Linked DNA regions of Homo sapiens: region 2 is linked to region 1. The links come from fine-mapping of genetic effects on gene expression. A gene starts in region 1. The other region holds a variant in brackets. All regions are shown on one strand. Distances are between the middles of the regions.

The links.
Region 2: its variant is fine-mapped to the expression of IL2RA-AS1 in spleen (GTEx, PIP above 0.99).

Annotation. Positions count from the first base shown.
Region 1 is chr10:6,033,854-6,036,353 of GRCh38, reverse strand. IL2RA-AS1 (IL2RA antisense RNA 1) reads right to left here and starts at 944. Exons shown (of 2, transcript XR_001747349.2): 1 at 292-944; 2 at 1-169. All of the region lies in intron 1 of IL2RA (interleukin 2 receptor subunit alpha), which reads left to right.
Region 2 is chr10:6,052,736-6,055,235 of GRCh38, reverse strand. All of the region lies in intron 1 of IL2RA (interleukin 2 receptor subunit alpha), which reads left to right. Among named protein-coding and RNA genes, the nearest start is that of IL2RA, 8.4 kb to the left of the region's middle. RefSeq lists a cis regulatory region at 2,210-2,500. The variant G/T (reference allele first, on the strand shown) is at 1,271.

The DNA.
Region 1 (2,500 bases):
GAAGAGTGACGAGTGACTGAGAGTGGAGTCGAACACTCGAAAGGAGAGAGCAGGTGCCTGGGAGTCAGAAAAGCTGGCTTGAATTCCTAAATCTGTCGCCGTTTGTCCTGGGTGAGGTCATTCTGGTCATCTGTGGCAGGAGGACTACAAATGCCTGGCTTTTCCCTTTCTAGCGGGCACACAAAGAGACAGAGAAGTTGAATCTTTAGCAATCCATTGAAGGGGAAACCCCACAATGCAAAGAGAAGCATTGTCGAGGGCCCTTCACCTGCACCCTCTGTTCTCCCAGACCTGTTCCATGATGCATTCCAGAGGAGGTGGCTCTCCGTCACTGTCACTTGCGATTGCCAAGGCGTCAGCCAGACAAGGCAAAAGCTCCCAAGGGATGTTACCCTTCAGCTGCATACAGAACTCCTAGAGGCAACAAATCCACAAGGAAAGATACACCCATGATCGTGTATTTCAGCCACAATGATGGAGGTGAGGTGGAAAAGGACGAGGAACAAGTGGGATTCTGCCCATGTCTGTCTAATGAGCATCCACAGCAAACTCCAACGGAAGATGTGAAACACGCTCAACACTAGAAGAACTCGGTTTGACTCTGTCTTGGTGTGGGTCCCAGGCCAAAGCCCTCGGCATTTTCAGGATTAATGATCACTGCTGGCTGTCTCTTTTTCCCTCTGCCCACATAAAAGGCACAAAAACTAAAGAGGAAGGCCACATCACCGCAGAGCCCGTGGTTCAGGATTCTCCTCCTGGGAGCCCCGATTTCTTTTCTTTTCTCACCTTAACAGTGTCCAGAGTACTTTTATTGCCAGAATAGAGATATAGCCTGCTCAGAGCCTCATGTGCGGCCCACCACTCAGGAACAAAGGGAGAGACAGATACTAAGCATGTGTGCAACAGAGAAAATCCAGCCCACGAAACCGTGTGCAAGAGCAGCTCCGTCCTGCCTGAATGTGGCTTTGGGAAGCCCACCTAGAACTTGGCCTGGCGCCAGTCACCCACTCAGAGCCTACTGCCATGAAGGCAGGCCCTCACTCTCCATCCCTGCCCACACAGGGAGACCCAGGGCAAACAGAAAGTCCCCTAGCGGGGGCCCAAGGAACCCCTGGCTCTCTCAGGGTCCCATTCAAGTTTCTGGGCTAGTCTTGCAGACTAAATACCACTCAGTTGCCTGGTGGGAGTAGGTGCTGGGCAGGGTGGACAGGAGCCCCACTGCTTCTCAGCCCTGTGCCAACCCCTTTGTGTGAGACCCTAGTGCAGGGTGGGGAGCCCCAATTTCTAAGCCTTGAGTGTTTACCACCCTACACCCCCACCTCCAACTCCCGAATTGATCATCTCAAATTTTCCCACAGTCCATAGGCACCAGACACTTCAAATAATCTCAGAAAAGAAGGTGATGTCTACATCCAGAATCGTGCCAATACTTTAAAATTACAGGGAGAAAAATATTCCCCTTCCCCTCTTCTAAGGAAAATTCTGTCTGCCTCCCAAGCTCCCAGGTCCCTTGGTGTGAGCTGGGGGAGTGCGTAGAGCTAGGAATTGGAAAATATTCCGGGAGAGAATGATTTATGTTGAGAAGACCCATTGGGAGAAGCAGGAAGTGGGTCTGGAAAGACAGGAGGAAGTGTAAAGGCAGAGAAAAGCCCTTGTTAGCTGAATTTTGAGAAGTAATTTTTGGCATTGTTAGTGAGTAAAACTAGAGAATGAGGACAGTTGTATGCTGTCTTAAAAAATAAAAGAATGATAATATAGGGAAAGATGATTTCAACATTTTGGAGTCATATAAGTGGAATCCTCCTGTTATTACTGTGCAAGACTTTTAGACAAATTATTTTTTATTCTTTTTTTGGATGTTGTTCTGTTGCTGCTTTTATAACACTACACTGAGAAGGGCTAAAAAAAAAATCCCAAATTTATTCCTATTAGATTGAAAAAGAGCAACCCTCCAGCGTACCTTTCCACACACTCTTCTACCTCCTGCTGCCTTCAGGTGATGTTTGGCACTTCCTGACAAGGCCTTTCAGGGAAAAGGATTATAGCCAAGCTCTTTAGTGGTTACTGAGCTACAGACCTGGAGGTGTCAAGATCCTAAATTCCAGGAAAGATTCTTTATGAAAGGAAAGTCTGTGAGAATAAGAAGTTCTGGAACTTCCCCTTGTCCCCGCATGACCTCTTCAGACACTCGGGCTAATTTATGATGACTCTGAAAATGCCCATGACCTCATCTAGAAAAACGCACTCTCATGGAATTCAAGAGTTTCTAAGGGCACAAAATAGCTTCCAAGACAATTTGTTTCCTTCTTTTCAAATTGATGTGTTTAGAAATGTTCTTGGCTTGTGATTGACATCTCAGATTCCAAAAACATCTGAGGTCAATCCTGGTTATTTGTGCTAATGAATAATTACAAAAGAGTAGCTAAATATGCTTCTCGCTCATTTTGTTGAGCTAAAATTACTTATAAAGAAATGCATAGATCTGCGGCATACAATTTGA
Region 2 (2,500 bases), 19 kb before region 1:
CTCAAGCAGTACTTCTCAACCTTTAATGCATTTAGAAATCATCCAGGGATCTTGTCACGGAGCAAATTCTGACTCGGGAGGTCAGGGGTTACCGCCTAAGATTCTGGTGCAAACAGGTTCCACAGGAGGCCTATGTTGTGGGTGCATGAACCCCATTTTGAGTAACAAGGCTATCAAGTCAGAGAATAAATACGCATTGCTTTTACCCACACAGAACTTGCGACTGAAATGAGAAAATAGGCTGAGTGTGATAGCTCATGCCTGTAATACCTGCACTTTGGGAGGCCAAGGCAGGAGGATCCCATGAGCCCAGGAGTTCAAAACCAGCCTGGGCAACATAGTGAGACTCTGCCTCTTAAAAAAAAATTAGAAAAAGGGAAAACCAATCTGGGAAAGATCAAATATTGATCAAACATTGCAAATAATGCCATAAATGATCAGAATAGGGAGAGTAACATGCTACCTGGAGAACTAGAAAAAAAATTCTCAGAGAAGGTGGCCCTGGGACCTCCTGGCTCTGAATGGTGGTTCTGAATATCAGGAGAGGGGCTGGAGAATGGTGTTTTCTAGTGATGCTGCTGGAGTCGTGTACATGGACCGTGTTCCATGAGTAGTGAGCTGACCAATTAGAGAGATGAGGGGTTTGCCAGGACAACTACATAATGAGCCATATTTCAACATACATGAAGTTTTGTGTGTGTGTGCCAAGCAAATGAGTCTCAGATTCTCGGACAAAAACGAATACTTTTGCTCAGACAGACAGCATGTGAGTGCTTCTCCCCCAGCTTCAACCCTGCAGTGTCTACAGGTGTCATTGGTCCCCGGTAGACGTCCTCGGTTCAATGGGTCACTGATCACTTATCACCAGCACCACATGACCCTGGATGGCAGCCAAAGAGTTCCTGGGTCTTGTTTCCCTACCTCCACATTTTTTTCCTGACCCAGCCCGAGCCACGTGCACACCACAGGGCTGGAGTCCCAGTGCTTTTGTCCTGACAGCCCATTCTCCCACTCCCACACCCAACCAGTTCCCCGGGGGGTTTTTGACCAGCAGCTCCGCCTGCAGCCCTCGACCCGGATCCAGGCATCCTGCTTAAGGAGGGGTTCAGGTGGCAGGAAACTCCAGGGCAACAAAGTGTGGGTGGCATGGGTGGGGTTGACCGGAAGGTCACTGTGCTGGGAGGAAGAGGAACGGGTGGAGGGAAGGCAAGATACGGATCAGGAGTATTGACATCCTGTGCCAGTAGAGGGGCCTGCCCCATGGTGGAAG[G/T]TGTGGCCGGATGAGCTCGCTGGCCCATGTCCCCCCGTTTCCCAGGCTTTTTCCTCCCACGCTGTATGCAGTGCAAGAACAAGCTGGTGCAATTGGACTAGCAGCAATTGAGTCCTTTTACCCAAAAGAAGAAGAAAGAGCAATGTTTCAAAAGAATAAAAAGGAAGCTGCAGCCAGGTGCAGTGGCTCATTCCTGTAATCCCAGCACTTTGGGGGGCCAAGAGGGGAGGATCCCTGGAGCCCAGGAGTTTGAGACCAGCCTGGGCAACATAGTGAGACCCCACCTCTATTTTTTAAAATGATAATTAATTTTAAATAAGGAAGTTTGTGAAAGCCATTGGTTTCTTTATTCTAAAGAGCGTGGAAAATAGGACAGTCTCCAACAGGCCCTGATTTCCTTTGGTAAGAAAATGAGCAAAGCTATAGACTAGGAAACATGACTGGTTAAAGCCGGCCCATGCACCAACTCCGATACTGATAGTTATGTTTCCTTTCGTTCTTATTTGCTTCAAGCTTTGTTCCAGAAAACATTTGAACACTAGCTAGAACCACCACAGTGAATATCCATTGCCTAAATGCTATCTTTCAGGTATTATGTTCAGACATAGTATTACTTTGGTTAATTCTCAAAATAAAGTAGGTCATATGATTATCCCCATTTTCTGCCTGGTGAACTGTGGTTAAATGGGCTTACAGAGATTAAATGGGTTGCCTGATGTAGCCCAACGAGGAAGGGGCTAGGATAGGAAGCAGGCGCTCTCATTCCAGAACCTGCCTTTTTTCCTCCTGTCTAAACTGCTGCTAAAGGTCAAAGACAAAGGTGCCATGTGAGCAGGGAAGTTATTTTTGTTTTTTACAAAGGTGAAGTAATAGGCTGTGAGTAATGCCCACTGCTCCTTCAGCCCCAGGTACATGCAGTGAGGCGGTACCCACAGAGCCGCGTGGCACTCCTCAACCTGCTAGAGCAGCCGGCCTCCTGCAGGATGGCTTAAGGACCACCTGGTCCTTGGGGTCTGGGTTCTCCGGGTCCTGCTGTTCCCTGCAGCCTTCCTTCTACCCCCAGAGCAGCTTGGGGGCATCTTTAGAGAAAGCGGCAGTGTCGCACCTGCCCCAGCAGCCACAAAACAGAGGAAATTCTGAGCACCTCCGGGCGTGAGTCACCATACCACATTCAGGAATTGCCACCTCTGCCCACAGAATCACCCACTCTTTTCTGTTTGGGACCAAAAT